2 separate regions of the Homo sapiens genome follow, and region 1 is linked to region 2. Evidence: fine-mapped expression QTL. A gene starts in region 2. The other region holds a variant in brackets. All regions are shown on one strand. Distances are between the middles of the regions.

What was found. PIP is the estimated chance that this variant, and not a neighbour inherited with it, causes the effect.
Region 1: its variant is fine-mapped to the expression of CD63-AS1 in blood mononuclear cells (TOPMed, PIP 0.92).

What each region holds. Positions count from the first base shown.
Region 1 is chr12:55,838,764-55,847,861 of GRCh38, forward strand. It overlaps MMP19 (matrix metallopeptidase 19), which reads right to left and starts at 4,173. Exons shown (of 9, transcript NM_002429.6): 1 at 3,981-4,173; 2 at 3,590-3,675; 3 at 2,343-2,473; 4 at 1,904-2,119; 5 at 733-978. The coding sequence starts at 4,067. The variant T/C (reference allele first, on the strand shown) is at 3,771.
Region 2 is chr12:55,723,525-55,732,622 of GRCh38, forward strand. It overlaps CD63-AS1 (CD63 antisense RNA 1), which reads left to right and starts at 5,570. Exons shown (of 2, transcript NR_183514.1): 1 at 5,570-5,831; 2 at 6,138-7,328. RDH5 (retinol dehydrogenase 5) reads left to right here. Exons shown (of 5, transcript NM_002905.5): 4 at 362-525; 5 at 798-1,181. The coding sequence ends at 1,021. It overlaps CD63 (CD63 molecule), which reads right to left and starts at 5,485. Exons shown (of 8, transcript NM_001780.6): 1 at 5,429-5,485; 2 at 4,752-4,828; 3 at 3,627-3,815; 4 at 3,366-3,440; 5 at 3,176-3,271; 6 at 2,597-2,737; 7 at 2,289-2,372; 8 at 1,799-2,102. The coding sequence starts at 4,817. The coding sequence ends at 2,037. It overlaps BLOC1S1-RDH5 (BLOC1S1-RDH5 readthrough), which reads left to right. Exons shown (of 6, transcript NR_037658.1): 5 at 362-525; 6 at 798-1,218. RefSeq lists silencers at 4,882-5,181, 5,452-5,831 and an enhancer at 5,311-5,917.

The DNA.
Region 1 (9,098 bases), 120 kb after region 2:
GAGAACTCACAGCACCTGTCCTCCACACCAGTCTCCTGTAAGTTTTGCTCAGAGTCCCCATACAGAGGGGAAAAGGGAATCCTAGAGCGTTTTCATTTGTGGTAGGCAATATTATGTTGATATCAGCGGGAGACACGTTCTAGGTTTGAGAGACACCAGAAAGGGAGAAGGAGGATTGTTAAAATGTGCATTCTTGCCGGGTGTGGTGGCTCACGCCTATAATCCTAGGACTTTGGGAGGCTGAGGCGGGTGGATTGCCTGAGCTCAGGAATTTAAGACCAGCCTGGGCAACATGGTGAAACCCCATCTCTACTAAAATACAAAAACAATTAGCTGGGCGTGGTTGCGTGTGCCTGTAATCCCAGCTACTTGGGAGGCTGAGGCAGGAGAATGGCTTGAACCCGGGAGGCGGAGGTTGCAGTGAGCCAAGATCATGCCATTGCACTCCAGCCTGGGTGACAGAGTGAGGCTCTATCTCAAAAAAAAAAAAAAAAAAAAAGAAGGTGCATTCTCCATCCCCAAGCATGGGTGTAAGGAGAGAGGCCTGGAAGGAAGATTAGACATAGAAGAGTCTGAGAAAAACTGCTCCTGAAAATGAAGAAGCCTGAGTAACTGGGCTGGAGGAGAAGAAAGACACTAAGCTATATCCCTACATGGAGGCTAGACCTGTCTCTTCAAGCCTTGACGTGGGAGTCAGACTGACCCTCCCCCTCACTAGGGGGAGGGACTGACCATAGAGAGCCTGGATCCCTGCCACATCATCTGGGTGCAGCTTAAAGTGGGGCCGGTAGCCCTCGTAGACTGGGGCCATGAGGGCCTGGGAATATCGGGAGTGCCCAAGCCCCAGAGCATGGCCCACTTCATGGGCTGCAATGATGCGCAGGTTCACCCCACGGTAGGTCCCCTCAGTCCAGAACTCGTCTTCGTCGAAGTGCACACTGCCCAGCTCTGGGATGTCGGCATGGGCCAGGACTCTCCCTGGACAAAGGCAAAGGTGAACAGGAAGGAGGTCAGAGCCCGCTAGGCTAGAGCACACCCTGCCTATTATAAACTCTAATTAATGCATACCTTTAAAATTCCCCCAGCTATGTTCACTGTCTCTTGGATGCTTCTTTCTCCCCTTTCAGATTCCCCTGTCATCACCCAGTTCTCTCAGGAATGCCCATCACTGTCCCTTACCTTCCCAGCCACTCCCTGCTCTCTGACCCAGTCCTCTCTGGCCCATACCTCTAAGGTATGCCTTGAACAGGGGAACTTAAGGGAGAAAAAGAAGCATAGGCAGCCAGGGGTGATGGCTCACACCTGTAATCCCAACACTTTCAGAGGCCAAGGCAGGAGGATTGCTTGAGTACAGGAGTTTAAGACCAGCCTGGGCAACATAGCAAAACTTCATCTCTACAAAAATTAGCCAGGTGTGGTAGTGTTTGCCTGTAGTCTCTACCTGGGAGGCTGAGGCGGGAGGATCACTTGAGCCTGGGAGGTTGAGGCTGCAGTGAGCCATGATTGTGTCACTGTACTCCAGTCTGGGCAACAGAGTGAGACTGTCAAGCAAGCAAGAGAGAGGAAGGAAAGAAGGGAGGGAGGGAGGGAGGGAGAGAAGGAAGGAAGGGAGGGAGGGAGGGAGAGAGAGAAGGAGAGAAGGAAGGGAGGGAGGGAGAGAAGGAAGGGAGGGAGGGAAGGAGAGAGAAGGAGAGAAGGAAGGGAGGGAGGGAGGAAGTTTCAAACAGGAGGCTCCATGTAGATGACCAACTGCGCCCGTGCTCCCGTTAGGAGGTAATTAGAGAGCGTATGGTGCAGGTGGGATAAAGAGCAGCCCAAACATCAAGGTTCTAGAGTCACTGGTTCAAGGAGACAGAGGTAATCTCAGAGGTCTATGAGGTGGGAACTGAGAACTGTTGCCTACCAGGCCCATCAAAAGTATTGGAACAGTACGAGCTTTGGCGGCCATGGAAGGAGAGGCGGATGTCAGCCGCACCAGCCTGCACCTCTTGGAAGGTCAAGGGAGCCACATTGCTCCAGTCCTGGAAGGCTTGACGCAGGGCTGCCCGGGCTGTGTGGGGTGGAAGGGTGGAGGGCAGGTTCAAGATGCGGAAAGTCAGGTGCTTCTTTCTCCAGCGGCCTAGTTAATGACCAGAAAACAGATTAGAAATACAGATCCTTCTGCCAACCCCAGAGAGCTCCTCTGGGTTTAGGCACTCAACCCCCAAGACAGGTGACAACCAGGTAATCACCAGGTGATTATCTATTCAACACTGAGCTGGTCCAGACTGTCCTAATGCCACCCACACGCCAGAACCACATCACCCCCTCCTCTCCCTCTCTTTTCCAGGCTCTGTTCTCACCCAGCAACAGGTATTTAAGGGTCTTCTGGTTGAAGGGATCCTCTAGGCCACAACGAGGCTGCCTCATGCGGGCCCTTGTGGCATCATCCAGCTGACCTGAGACTGGAAGTTCAGATGCTTCCTGAAAAGCTCTGAAGGAGGGAGAGGGATGGGTCTACCAGGACAGGAAAATCTGAAATGACTGGGAGATGATTGCTCTTTGACTTCCTGCTGCCCAAGTTCATGGCCAAGAATAGCACAGAATCCCTGAAGCTGACAGGGTTACTCCAGCCTCCAGTCCTCATAACTGGGACTTTCTCTTCTGTTCTGCAGAAATGGAGATACTCCAGCTTCATCTCCCCATTTTCAGTGTCTTTTATTTGAGTAAGTTTGCCCTCAGGTGTAGCCTTCCTCCTCTACTGCAATCTTCCTTCCTTCCTTCCTTCCTTCCTTCCTTCCTTCCTTCCTTCCTTTCTTTTTCTTCTCTCTTTCTTTCTTCCTTTCTTTCTTTTTTGGTAGAGATGGGGTCTCATTATGTTGCCCAGGTTGCTGTCAAACTTCTGGGCTCAAGCAATCCCCCTGCCTGGATCTCCCAAAGTGCTGGGATTACAGGCGTGAGCCACCATGCCCAGCCCCTCTACTGCAATTTCTAACCTTCTCCTACTCTGTGGAGGTGTCTGGCTCCCCTGCTCTGGAGAGCTTTCCACTAGTGCTCCCACCTGACAGCCTGTCCTCCTTCAGCCTTCTCCCTTCCTGAATGGATACCCGTCCCAGCCCAGCTTGCCCTGGAGCAATTTCATCCATCTATGGACTGTCATAGGGCCTAGGGGCTTTTCAAGGGACCTGAACATATCTGAGAGCAGAAAGAAAAATAATCCATTACATCAACATATAAAACTATAAAATAGAAATAAATAAGTACCAAATTGAAGGCCCACAAAAGGTAATAGCATGTCAACAACTCAACTCAGTTTTACATATCATTACACTTTATGTGGACTATAACTAAATATTAGTATTTGAGATATGATGTGGGTAGAGACTCCAAAGGAATGCTTATGGCCTAGGAAGATCCAATGCCTGTATTCCTCATCTGTGAATCCCCATCTCACCCCATGCCCCACCACCATAATAATGATCGCCACCCATCTCTAAATCCCTGGCATGGTTTAGGGTCAGGAGGAGGTGGGCCTGGGGAGAGGAAGGGATGAGAAGGAAGAAGACCTTGAGACCTTAGCCCTAAAGGCATACACCTCATAGCTTCTCACCTCAGAGCCTCGGTGATATCTTCTGGCTTGAAGTTATTAGATCCTTCTAGAGGCTTCTGTAGGTACCCATATTGTGACAGGTAGTCCTATGATGGGAGTGGAGGTAAGCAGGTTAAAAGGGGGTTAGTCTCAGAGTAAAGCTTCTAAGTGACCTAACAGATCCATCAGGAGAGGAGGGACC[T/C]GATATGGAAGCACTAATGGAGAAGCACCTTAGAGAAGGGGCTCAGGTGGAACAAGGGGAAGCAGCGGGAGATGGGCAGGGTAGACCATGGGGCAGAGAGAGCAAGGGAAAGGCAGGCAGGCTGAAGGTCAGGAGGGAGGCTTCGATGGGGCTGTGGAGCAGTAACCCCTGTCCCTCCGCTGGCCCAGGTCTCTTTCTTGGGGGACTTACCACAGGCGCCACCTCTGCAAGCCCCAGGACCCGGCCTGAGACTGTCATGGGGAGTAGGAAGCCCAGCCACAGCTGCTGGCAGTTCATGGTCCCACCAGACGAGAGCTCCAGAGGCTGTCCGTGCCTCTGACCTGAGATTTCTGGGAGCCTTGGGGGAGCAGTGCTAGGCAGAGGGGCTCTTACCCCCAGTTCTTTTTACTCTCCAGCCTCTAGTCCTCTTTATAACAGCTGAGGGGAATTTGGGGGAGAGGCAGAGGGAGGTGACTCAGCCAAGAGATATGTTGCAATTCACCATTAACCCTTGCCCTACCAGAGAGCGGAAGCCAAAGAGAGTTCCCAATCGCTTCCCTCAGAGTCCTCTGCTGGAGATGGAAAAACTTCATACTGCCCTAGGGTGAGCATCCAGGCAGGACGAGAACCAGAATCTCTGGAGAGACTAGAGATAGGGATCATGGACATCCCCTGGAATTAGACATCAATGTGCCTCAGGGACCCTGGGCCAGCAAATCACTCCGCCCCTACCTTTGAGTCTCCCTAGAATAAGCTGAGAGGTAGGAAACAGCTGAGGTAGCTTGGGTTTCAGGTGAAGGAGTCAAGCGTGAAGTCTCAGTTTCTTTGTACCCAAGACCAAGTTGGGAATATAGATGCTCCTGCAACCTACTTATGTCTGCTTTAATAAAAAGTCATTATTTCAAGAATCTAATGAGCCTGGAATATGTGGGTGTAGGTGGGACTTAACAAGGGCACAAATAAGTAAAGGGCCCAGAGCCTACCCTCAGGGAGCTTACGGATCCAGTGAGGCAGATCCAGACACCTGGGAAGAGGGGAGCCAGCGTGCCAGGCCAGAGGTGATTCACCCTAAGGGGCTTGGGGCTGGGGGGAGGTTTGCTGAGAAGTCAGGCTTTGAGATGGGCTTTGAAGGCCAGCTAAGAATTGATGGGGTAAGGCCAGGCATGGTGGCTCGCTCCTGTAATCCTAGCACTTTGAAAGGCTGAGGTGGGTGAATCACTTGAGATCAAGAGTTCGAAACCAGCCTGACCAACATGGTGAAACCTTGTTTCTACTAAAAATACAAAAATTAGCCAGGTATGGTGGCGGGCGCCTGTAATCCCAGCTACTCGGCAGGCTGAGGCAGGAGAATCACGTGAACCCAGGAGGCAGAGGTTGCAGTGAGCTGAGATCACACCATTGCACTCCAGCCTGGGCAACAGAGCAAAAACTCCATCTCAAAAAAAAAAAGAATTGATAGGGTAAAAGGATACTGAGAGACAGACAGTGCAGGTCTTGAGTAAAAGTGCAGAGCTGAGAGACTGCTGTACTCAGTAAGTCAGAAGGGTCACGACTGCTTCATTCACCACTGAAGCCCGAGTGCCTACCCCAGGCCACCTCCATGCTTTCGAGGCTGTGCTTAATAAATCACTGTCAAAGAATGACCAGGGTGGGAAAGTGGTTGGGAGACAGAATTTGGAGAGGGCCTTAAATGCTATGCAAGGAAAAGAAGAAAAACTTACATTTAAAAATACCGGACGGGAGCAGTGGCTCACGTCTGTAATCCCAGCACTTTCGGAGGCTGAGGTGGGCGGACCATGAGGTCAGGAGTTTGAGACTAGCCTGGCCAACATAGCAAAATCTTGTCTCTACTAAAAATACAAAAATTAGCCAGGCGTGATGGCATGCGCCTGTAATCCCAGCTACTCGGGAGACTGAGGCAGGAGAATTGCTTGAACTGGGGAGGCGGAGATTGCAGTGAGCTGAGATCGCGCCACTGTACTCCAGCCTGGTGACAGAATGAGACTCTGTCTCAAAATTAGTTAATTAGTTAATTAATTAAAATAAAAATACCTATTATTGGGTGATGGGTGAACCAAAATCTCACAAATCACCACTAAACACTAAAGAATTTATGTAACCAAATACCACCTGTTCCCCAAAAACCTATGGAAATAAAAAATTAAAGGAATTAAAGTCCGGGCATGGTGACTCACACTTGTAATCCCAGCACTTTCGGAGGCCGAGGTGGGTGGATCACCTGAGGTCAAGAGTTTGAGACCAGCCTGACCAACATGGTGAAACCCCGTCTCTACTAAAAATACAAAAATTAGCCAGGCGTGGTGGCACGCGCCTGTAATCCCAGCTACTCAGGAGGCTGAGGCAGGAGAATCGCTTGAATCCGGGAGACAGAGGTTGCAGTGAGCTGAGATCGCACCACTGCACTCCATCCTGGGCGACAGAGCGAGACTCTGTCCCCCCACAAAAAAAAAATAAATAAATAAATAAATAAAAAGCTACTATGTATTACATGCTTTATATATTACCTCCTATAGTTCTCACAGCCATCTGGTGAGGGGAAAATTATTCCGGCCACTTTTTGTAGGAGGAAATAGATACTCAGAAAGGGAAATTTGACCAAGAACATGGAACTCCCAACTGGCCTGACCTTATTTAAATCCCTCTGCTGACTCTATAACTCATGCTCTTTCCGTACACCACACTGACACTTAGAGCTTTGTTCTTTAAGTAACTAGGACCCCTGAAGGCTCCACCATCAGTTACACATCATACAACATTTTCATATTGTTCAAAAGCACAGTGAAGTAGACATAGGAATGGGGGAAAAGGTAACTGAACTTTTATGTTCTCAGAAGGGCTGGGAGGCCACAAGGGAACACCTCACAGCCCAGGATCAAGGTGGGGGATGCTCCTGATCCATATTGCTGCCCTCAATGATGCTGGTCCGTCTGGCCCATCCACCACCCAACTGGTAACCATTGGGTGACTAAGTCTCAAGTGACCAGTGACAGGCAAGGAAGGACAGAAAGCCTCTGAGCGATGAGTGACAGGGCCCATCACCAAGGCTGATGCACCCAGGAAATGATGGAGTTTGGGGACAAGTTCCTGCTTAGTCCCCTGCGGGGCTCTTCCTCCTCTCTTTCTACCCCCTTTCCAGTCTTTCTCCTTTTGAGAACAGAACATGCGCCAATTGAAAATTAATTACGATTTTTAAAATTAATGTTTTGTGTTTTTTTCCTGAATAAGTTATTCATCATTCATTATAATATTTGGTATTAGAAAATACCAAAACAAACAAGGAAGAAAATGAAAACCACTAGTAAATTCTACCCAAAAGAGAACCACTAGTAACATTTTGATGCATTTCTTTGAAACTGTCTGTGGAACTGAGCTCACCCAGCTCCGCCTGCCTGGCCTCAGCCCCTAGAGACTGTCTGGGAGGGAGGAGAAAGCTTTGGGAGCCAGAGAGGATAATGGAGGAGAGGTGAGGGGAGGGGTGGGGAAGAGACAGACAAGGAGGATGCAAGGGACAGGAGTAAAGTAAAATGAATGTTATAGCAAATTACTCCCTCCCCTTAGAAACCTCATGTAAGGAAAAAAAGAAAAAAAAATTTTTTTTTGGGTCTCCCAGGCTGGAAAACAGTGGCACAATAATCCTGGCTCGCTGCAACCTTCGCCTTCTGGGCTCAAGCAATCCTCCCACCTCAGCCTCCTGCATAACTGGGGCTACAGGCACACACCACCCAGCCCAGCTAATTTTTGTATTTTTTGTAGAGAGTGTGGGGGGTGGGGGAGGCGGGTTTCCTATGGTGCTCAGGCTGGTCTTGGGCTCAAGTGATCGGCCCACCTCGGCCTCCCAAAATGCTGTGATTATACGTGTGAGCCACTGTGCCTAACCAGAAAAAAAAAGTGTGTGTGTGTATATATATGTGTGTGTATATATATATATATATATTTAGTGTGTTAGGGAGAGAGATGGCAGTTATCATAAGGTGAGGGTGGGTACTAACTCCGGCCTCAGAAGGCCTGGGGGTGGAACTATATTCTAGCAACTTAGGAGCCAGGAGAGAGAGAATAAATCAAAAGTAAAAGCTGCCAAATAGATAACTTCATTTAAATTTTAACAACAACCCTTCAGCCAGTATTATCATCTTTTTTACTCCTTTTCTGAGACTGAATCTCACTCTGTAGCCCAGGCTGGAGTGCAGTGGCGCAATCTCGGCTCACTGCAACCTCTGCCTCCCGGGTTCAAGCAATTCTCCTGCCTCAGCCACCCGAATAGCTGGGATTACAGGCGCGTGCCACCACACCCAGCTAATTTTTGTACTTTTAGTAGAGATGGGATTTTGCTGTGTTGGCCAGGCTGGTCTCAAACTCCTGAGCTCAAGTGATCCACCTCCCTTGGCCTCCCAAAGTGCTGGGATTACAGGCGTGAGCCACCGCACCTGGCCAGTATTATCATCTTTTTACAGAAAGAGAAACTGAGTCTCTAATAAGTTGCTTCAGGTCACATAGCTAGGATGCAGCAGAGCCTGGAGCAGGCTCTAAAGCTGCCATCTTTGCTCAGCACTCTTCAGTCTCCCAGAGTTCCCACAGGCACCCAAACAAAAGCCCCTAGAGTCTGGAGCTGCAGGCTGGGCACATGTGCAAGGATTGGATGACTAATTGTTGCCAGCACAGCATCATGACCACCCCCTCCACCAGCTCCTACCCCCTGAGCCGGGCTGACCCAGCTCTTTTTTGTCATCTCTAAATTTGTCATCTCTCACTGGGGGAGATGTGGACGTGTGTGCGAAGGGTTAGGACATGTGGCTTGCCTGCCCCAAAAAGAGAACTTGATCTGAGAGAAAAAAATGGGTTCTTTGTCTTGCTTGCTCCCTTCCTGCAAGTTGGTTTCCCTCTCTGTCCACAAATTGTGGCAAAAGAGTTTTACAGAAATATTTTTAATGACAATATTTTAAACTATAGCAAGTGGGAGTAGAGTAGACCTCTGAGAGTATTTTCTAATGATCAGGGGCCATGGGGTTATGGGTGGAAGGCAAAAGTTTGTAGAGATTTCTAAGCCCAGCAGAAGCTAATCTCAAAGCTATCGCCCACCCCCTCTGACAGCCACCCTTACCCTGTGGAGGCAGTGGGCAGGGAAGCTGGGGAAAGAAGAAAGGGGAATCCTGGAGGGCAGGTAGAAGGGCAAGTCTGGAGCCTGAAACTGGAAACTGGAGGTGAGAAAAACATGAGCTGTAACCAAGTTAGGGCTGGCCCCGACTTTGCCCTTGACCTGGATAAATGTGGGAGTTGGTGGTGTTAGCCTCTGACCTGTTTCCCCCTCAG
Region 2 (9,098 bases):
GCCAGCTGCCTACAAGCTGATAATGGTTTTTTTTATTTTTAAATGGTTACATTGTAAACTGTTATATAAGTACCTGATAATATCATTAATTTTGTTTCTTGGCCTGCCATGCTTAAAATATTAACTCTCTGGCCCTTTAAGAAAAAAACGTGCTGACCCCTGCTCTAGATCAAAGAAAACAAACCTCAAAAATACTTTCCTCCCTCTACCCCACTTGACCCTTGTCCCGGGGCAGTAGGCATCTCCGTCAAAACTCTTGTCCCTGGTCTGTGGTAACTTTCTCAGCTCCCCAACCCATGTCCCTCAAAGTCCCCTCCCTATAGGGCAAGAACCCAGCAACTTCGCTCTGCCCCGACTCTAGGCGGGATGTAGCTCATTTTGGGATACGAGTCTCCATCGTGGAGCCTGGCTTCTTCCGAACCCCTGTGACCAACCTGGAGAGTCTGGAGAAAACCCTGCAGGCCTGCTGGGCACGGCTGCCTCCTGCCACACAGGCCCACTATGGGGGGGCCTTCCTCACCAAGTGTGAGTAGCCAGGCCCACACAGGGGCACATGAAGGGAAACAAGTACCAGAAAGGCCAGTCCTGCATAAGCCTGCTAGGAGGTGGGTGGGGCACCCAGGGCAGGGTTGAGGGTGAACAGGATGTTACAAGAGTGCCCAGGCCATGTGGAACCTGCCCACTCCCCACACTGAGGAGGGGACTGAGGGTGACAAGCCCAGGGCCCCAGAAGACAGTACCTAAGATGGGCTGGAGTGAGGAAGGGAAACTGATTGCAACCACCTATGGGGCTGCAGACCTGAAAATGCAACAGCGCATCATGAACCTGATCTGTGACCCGGACCTAACCAAGGTGAGCCGATGCCTGGAGCATGCCCTGACTGCTCGACACCCCCGAACCCGCTACAGCCCAGGTTGGGATGCCAAGCTGCTCTGGCTGCCTGCCTCCTACCTGCCAGCCAGCCTGGTGGATGCTGTGCTCACCTGGGTCCTTCCCAAGCCTGCCCAAGCAGTCTACTGAATCCAGCCTTCCAGCAAGAGATTGTTTTTCAAGGACAAGGACTTTGATTTATTTCTGCCCCCACCCTGGTACTGCCTGGTGCCTGCCACAAAATAAGCACTAACAAAAGTGTATTGTTTAAAAAATAAAAAGAAGGTGGGCAGAAATGTGCCCAGTGGAAGGCTGACCCCATTTAAGTGCCAACTACTCCAAACCGACATGCTCACGGTCTCTGGCCTGTTCAGTCCCTGCAAAACAGCTAGCACCCACAGTGGGGCGCCAGGGAACTGCCTCACATCTACAGCTGCACGTCGGGGAGTGGCCATCAAAGGGCACTTTAATACATTTCCCTTATTTTCTGAAGGGGAGTAAGGTTGCAATTCAGTGTCTGTACTGGGAATGGTCTTCATATTTCTTGGGGGAGAAGAGCAGGTGATGAGGGTTCTGGGCCAGGCTGGGTGGCTTCCATGGAAGAAAAGGCAATATTCACATAAATTCTCCTGCTAAGGACACTGACCACACAGGTGTCAAGGCAACTTATCATACTTCGAAAGGAGCTGGATCCCTTGAGGATTGGCCAGGAAGGGAGGTGCTGGGCCCTTAGCGGTGCACAGAAGGCCAGGAAGATGTCCAAGGCAGATGGGGGCTGGGCTCTCGCAGGTGGGACCTTTCTGGGGAGCTGCTTTGACTTATGCAGCAGATGGCTTCATGAATGTTCATAGTGAGCCTGGCAGCATAAGACTAGGGGGCAGAAAGCACCACAGTCTCTGGATCCTCACTTCTCCCACTGCCTGCCCAACCAACACCTTCGCAAAGTCCTCCTTTCCCAAACACCCCCCAAAATAGACCTCGAAGTACACATGCATTAAGGTCCCAGAGGACAGGGAACATCAGTAAGGAAAGGAAGGAATCAAGCATCACTCTAAGACAAACTCAGACCATCTCTTTTCGGTCTGAAAAAATAATCCGTTTAATTGAAAAACCTGGAGGATACTATTCCACTCCCCCAGATGAGGAGGCTGAGGAGACCAGACCCCTACATCACCTCGTAGCCACTTCTGATACTCTTCACGAGGCAGCAGGCAAAGACAATTCCCAAAACCTAGAAGGAAAGATGGGGACAGGGGTGGAGAGGAGTCAGAAGGGCTAGCTACCTCAGACCCATGCAAGAGACTCCAAACACACACTCCCAGGCCAGTACCTCCTGTTCAGCACCCTCCTCCCCTCAGCCCCTTCCCTCCAGGCACCCTGGACAGAGTCCCAGCCCCTGCTCAGGGTTATCTCTTACCTCGACAAAAGCAATTCCAAGGGCTGCTGCAGCTACCACCAGCACATTTTTCCTCAGCCAGCCCCCAATCTTCTCCACACAGCCCTGAAGGTGGCAGGCACAAAGGACAAAAGCACCATCAGAAACTTCCCACCCCAACCCCCTCCCTTGGTCCATCAGTCTCTTCCCTGCCCCTGTACCTTTCACCCCACCCTTAGCATTTCCAGATCCCCTCCCCATCCCTGACCCTGTCCACCTCCATCCTGGGTCTCTTGCATTCTAAAACATTTCCCAGGTTTCCCAAGTCCCATACACAGTCTCCTCCCTACCTCCTTATGGATCGCCTTCTCGTTGAAATTAATCCCACAGCCCACAGTAACATTAATGCAGCAGGAGTCGGGGACTCGGTTCTTCGACATGGAAGGGATTTTCTCCCAATCTGTGTAGTTAGCAGCCCCACAGCACTTAAACTGGGGGAGGGAAGAAATATGGAGAAGAAGGTTGTTAAGTGAACCTTCACCTTCAATATGGAGATGAGAATTCTTTTTTTTTTTTTTTTTTTTTTTTTGAGACAGAGACTTGCTCTGTTGCCCAGACAAGTGCCCAGCGGTGGCTCAATCTCGGCTCACTGCAACCTCCGCCTCCCGGGTTCAAGCGATTCTCCTGCCTCACCCTCCTGAGTAGGTGGGATTACAGGCACTCACCACCACACCTGGCTAATTTTTGTATTTTTAGTAGAGACAGGGTTTCACCACGTTGGCCAGGCTAGTCTTGAACTTCTGACCTCAGGTGATCTGCCCACCTCGGCCTTCAAAAGTGCTGAGATTACAGGCGTGAGTCACCACACCCAGCCTTGGAGATGAGAATTCTCTATTCCCACCACCCCTGCTCCCAGCAACCCCACTCACATCTGCCTGCATCCTGTCCAGGATCGAAGCAGTGTGGTTGTTTTTCGGGTAATTCTCCATCTGCTGCCGGAAGTTGTTATTAAACTCTGACATCACCTGAGAGTACGGAGGAGCACTGTTGCAGTCAGAATTCAAGCACCAGGGTCCCAGACCCGGCTGAGGCAGGCCCTTCCCATTATTCCCTGCTTACCTTATCTCTAAACACATAGCCAGCAATGGCTGCGGCCACCTCCACCAACATGATAAGAGACAGAAAGATGGCAAACTGCAGGAGCAAAGGACAGAAGTCAAGTTTGGAGTCTATGCATTACAGGGGCCCGTTTTGGCACAGCCGGTCCCTGGACACTCACAAAGGTCTTCCTCACCCACCCACCTCACCCACCTTCCTGAGCCCGAACCAAGCTGCTCTGGCAGTCCCAGACCGCCCATGTTGGTCCCGCCCCCAACTCACCGTGATCATAAGACAATAGTTCTCCTTGCAGGCCCCGCAGCAGCCCACAAAAGCCACCAGGAAGAGGAAGACACCCACTGCGATGATGACCACTGGCAACAGAGAGCCAGGGGTAGCCCCCTGGATTATGGTCTGACTCAGGACAAGCTGTGCCCCGACACCCACGGCAATCAGTCCCACTGCACAGGCCTAAGAGAAAATCAGGTGAGGATTAGGCCATATCCACAACACAGTGGCCCTCCATGGTGGAGGGCAGGGGGTACACCTAGGACACAGACTTGACCCCATCCGGAAGAGAGATTCTCACACCTCTAGGGAATTTCTTTGGCTGTGGGGTAGGGGGATGACCCATCCTTGCCTGCCCCTACCTCCCCTGATCCCCTCCCGGCTCTTTAATCAGGGACATGACCAAATTCAAAAACCTCCCAGAAAGCCTTGACCTCAAGACACGTATTTCTGACCTAGAATAATGCTTTCTACAGGCCTCCAGGGCTCCCAGCTCAATTCTCTCCCAGAACTGCCCCCTCACTATCCTCCAGTGCACATCCCACGCGCGCATCAGCTGTGACTAAGGTTCCTCTGGCCAGTTAGGCCAGGAGAAGGGAAGAGGAAAAGGGAGCAAGAGTGATGTGTCCCTCCCTAGACAAACAGTAGCCTCTCAAGCCAGGAGCCCAGGGCAGGAGCAAATTGAAGTGGGCAGAGCCCTTCCTCACCCCCAAGCGCTGGGAGGAGGGAAAGGGGGAGAGGGGCTGGACAGGGATGAGAGGGTTGGGGAGGGAGAGAGGGGAGAAGGGAGAGCGAAGGGAAGCCCCATGGCGATAGCATCAGGCGGTTGGCTGGTTGCCCCACTGCCCCATATCACAAGTGGTTGGGTCACCAGACAGGAAGGGCCAGGAGGGATGGGGGTAGGGGTTGCTGCACACCCAGGATGGCCATTCTCGGTGGAAACAAGCCTCAGGTGTCCAGGAAAACTGGAGGAGGGAGTGGCTGCGCTGTCTTTCCCTGGCTTTCTTTCCACATCTGGTCTCCAGCTGCCTTAATTCTCATTCCCTCAGCCCTCACCACTGTGGAGCCAGGTCTCCCCGCACCCTGCCGGCGCGCCCCCCAGGACCCCTCGCCACTCACGCAAAAGGCCAGCAGGAGGACGTAGAGCAAGAACTTCACACATTTCATTCCTCCTTCCACCGCCATGGCTGCCGGGCCTGGGGCAGAGGGGAGGGCGGGGGGATTAAAACTGGCCGAAGGGGGACCTCGGTTTCCGGGCTCCCGGCCGGCCCTCGAGGGCTTCCCTTCACGGCCCCGATTCCCGGCCCCTCCCACCCGGAAACCCGCGGTCGGATCCACGTCTCCCAGCCCCCTCTTTACCCGCAGGAGAGGGGTGGGGGCGACGGCCGCGAAGCCCGGACCCCGCCCCGCCGCCTCTGGGGCCCAGGACAGATCCAAGGGCGCCGGCAGGGGCTTGAGCCTGACGCCGACCCTCGGCCCGCCAGTCTCCGGGCGTCAAACACCCTTTCCCCACCCAACACCCAGCCTGGAGAAACGGTCTTCAGCCCAACCCCGACCCCCGCCCCAGCCCCTTTCCCCTGGGCTCTGACCTCCCCGCCCACCAAAAAAAAAAAAAGTGCAGCCAGCACCCCCGCCACACCCTGCCCGGGCCCAGGGAACTTCGAAGCAAAGTTGCTCCAGGGCGGCTGGAGAGCGCCGGACGAGTCTCCGCGGGCCTGGGGCGAGCCCTGGAGGAAGGGACTGCGGGTGGTCTCTCCCAGCCCGCGCCGAAGTCCGCCGGGTCCCCGCGGCCTCACCTGGGCTTCCCAAGGCTGGCTGCGCGTTCCTCTCCCGCCGCGGCTCCGGGGCTCTCTAGCTGCGCCCCCCGGCTCCCGCCCCGCCTGCCGCGCGGCCCCGCCCCGGGCTCCAGCCACGGTCCCCTCCCCCGCCGAGTGGCCGCCGGCCTCCCTCATGTGACGCGGTAACAGCTGCGGCCTGAGTCACTGGGCCCGGCGCGGGGTGGGCCGAGCCCCCCGCCCGGCCAGGGCCACGTGGCCCCTACCCGGAAGAAGGCGCCCACCCCCGCAAAGGGAAAGCCGCAAGGGCAAGACCTCGGGGCGCCTGGGGCCCCCCTCTGGCGCTATACCTCCGTGCCAACTCGGGGTAGGAGAGCGGGGCGGAGCGCAGCCTGGGTCACTCTGGTTCAGAGAAGCGGACGAGGTGGGTGAGAGTTACCCTCTGAGCGCCGGGGCGGAGAGCTGAGGCCGGGTGACAATGTGGTCTGTGAGGTTTCCCCATCCTACCGTAGGGGATGAGCCAGCTCTCTCCTCTGGCTCCAACTCTGTGCAAGCCCCCTCCCCATCCGACTGTGCAGACAGCTGGGGACTGCCTGGGGTCGGGTGGGGCCAGAACAAACACTTCCAGAAAGTCCCTGGCTCACATCCTGGGTGTCTCCCAACATTCTACAGCATTCTAGAGTGGGGATTTCTGGCCCCCCTCTATTAGCACAGCTTCTCCATTTTCCAGGGATCCTAGTCTGAGAAAAGGGGAGGAAGCCCTTCCCCGAAGCCACGCTACCCAGTCAATCAAGACACGTCCGCGTCGGGTCCCGCCCTCTGGGGGAGGATTGACAAGGTCTGTGCTTCCAGCCTCCCAGACAGCTCCTGCATCCGTCTGTGATAGCGAGGGCTTGGGGGAAGACACGAAGGCAGGAGAGGCTTACATCCTCTGGATTTCCCCGTCTTATCCCAGAAGACAAAGCCAGGTGAGGGCTGGAAGCGGGCTAGGGGGATCAAGCTGCCTCCCTCCCTTGTGTGCCAGGGGTGGTCCCCAGAAGGAGCTGATCTGAACAGGCCGGAGAGTAGGACCGGCCGTCACACCCCCACACCTCCAGCCTCGGCCCCACTCCTTGGGCTCTTAAGGTCCTGCCTCAAGAACCACTTCCTGAGTCTTAGTGTATGTGTGTACACAAAGAATGAAAGAAGTCTCTAGAGCTAAAGGAAGGAGATCCGGGCTGGGCTGAGAAGCATCTTCCAGGATCACGGCCTTCCCGCGGGACACACCAAGCCCATTCCGGATCTTGCTCTTCCTGACCATGGCTGGCAGGCTGTGGAGGAGGAGCGGAGAGCAGAAGAAAGGAGTATTCATCAGGTTCCTTATTGTGCTGCCACTAGATGCCAGGCATGTGCTAGGCTTGGGGGCTGCAAGGAGAGGAAGACAGCGGCCCTGCCCTCTGCTAGCAGGCAGAACCGAGTTCTGGCCACACTGTGAAGAAAGGCAGAAGCCTGCGGTGGCAGCTGGTTAAGCTCAGAGGGAGGGAAAGGGAGAGGAGAATGGATTTCACGGAGCAGAAGGATGTGCTCAAGGTGACCTTGGAGAATAAAGGGGAGAGCTCCAGGGACAGAGAAGCAGTCGACTGTGGAAAAAAAAGGAGCATTTTGTAAAGTACATGGCAGGTTGGGGTTGGCTGGCTCAAAGGGCTTGGGACGGATGTGGTGAGATGGGCTGAAGGTGGTCTGAAGATCAAGATTGAGAGACTAGATACATAACAACCAACTGCAATGTTTGGTCCTTCATTGAATGGTTGAACAAACCAGCTGTGAAAGACATTTTGGGACATACAGACATGGACTGAGAATTAGACATAAGAAAATTATTTTGTTAACTGTTATCATGGTTAACAAAACGGTCATATAATATGATTATGTAGAGAAGTTACTCTAGTTTTTCCTCTTTTTTTTTCTTTATTCTCCTATCAGCCAATGCATTTGTTACAGGAAAGGGGTCCCAATCCAGACCACAAGAGAGGGTTCTTGGATCTCATGCAAGAAAGATTCAGGGCGAGTCGCAGTGCAAAGTATAAGCAAGTTTATTAAGAAAGTAAAGTGGTGAAACAACAGCTGCTCCATAGACAGAGTAGGATGTTCCCCAAAGTAAGAGGAGGGGCTAGGCGCAGTGGCTCACCACACCTGTAATCCCAGCATTTTGGGAGGCCTAGGCAGGTGGATCACCTGAGGTCAGGAGTTCGAGACCAGCCTGGCCAACACGGTGAAACCCCGTCTCTACTAAAAATACAAAAAGTAGCTGGGCACAATGATGTGTGCCTGTAGTCCCAGCTACTCAGGAGGCTGAGGCAGGAGAATCACTTGAACCCAGGAGGCAGAGGTTGCAGTGAGCAGAGATCGTGTTGCTGCATGCCATCCTGGGCAACAAGAGTGAAACTCCGTCTCTCTTTTTTTTTTTTTTTTTTTTGAGACGGAGTCTCGCTCTGTCACCAGGGTGGAGTGCAGTGGTGCCATCTTGGCTCACTGCAACCTCCGCCTCCCGTGTTCAAGTGATTCTCCTGCCTCAGCCTCCCAAGTAGCTGGGACTACAGGCACGCACCACTACGCCCAGCTAATTTTTGTGTTTTTAGTAGAGATGGGGTTTCACCATATTGGCCAGGATGGTCTCCATCTATTGACCTCGTGATCCGCCCCCTCAGCCTTCCAAAGTGCTGGGATTACAGGCGTGAGCCACTGTGCCCGGCAAAACTCTGTCTCAAAAAAAAAAAGTAAGAGGAGGAACACATTCACCCTCGGTATAATGCTTGTATATATGGAGAGATGTGCTCTGCTACAAAAGTTTGTGATAAAGGATTAATTTTCTTAATTACTGTATTTTGTAAGAATCGATATTATCTTTTTTATTATTATTAATTTGTTTCCTTAACCATAAACATCTAGGTTTTTTGTTTTTGTTTTTGTTTTTGAGATGGAGTTTTGCTCTTGTTGCCCAGGCTGGAGTGCAGTGGCACAACTCACCACAACCTCTGCCTCCCAGGTTCAAGAGATTCTCCTGCCTCAGCCTCCTGAGTAGCCGGGATTACAGGCATGCGCCACCATGCCTGGATAATTTTGTATTTTTAGTAGAGCCGATATTGTGCCATTGCACTCCAGCCTGGGCAACAGAGCGAGACTCTGTCTCAAAGAAAAAGAAAGAAAGATGAAAATGTTGTGGAGATGGATGGTGCTGATGGTTGCACAATGTGTATGTACTCAATGTCCCTGAATTTTATGTTATATATATTTTACTACACACATACACACAAAGAATGGCCCACTTCTACAGCCTGGAAAGTTGACACAGAGCTCCATGTGTTTGCTGGGGTGCAGGATAGAGGGGCCTCTTAGTGGGAAGTGGCTGATCTCAGACCTGGCCCTTCACATCCTTCAGATCCCCCAGCACCTGTTCCAAGTGCCTGACATCCAGATATGCCACCAAGCCGTCCTGGCTGGCCCAGGCTGCTGCCTCTTGGTTGCCTGGCACCAGTTGGTGGTAGGTGTGCTGAGGCGGGGACCCTTGTCCCTCCACACCAAGCAAAGCCAGCTTTCCCTCCAGCTTCACCACGCCTCCACCTAGGCCCAGCGACACAGCATGGGGGCCACAGATGTCTCAAGCAAACCTGCAGCCTTCTGAGAGCATGTAGGCATCAGCCAGACCCAGTGC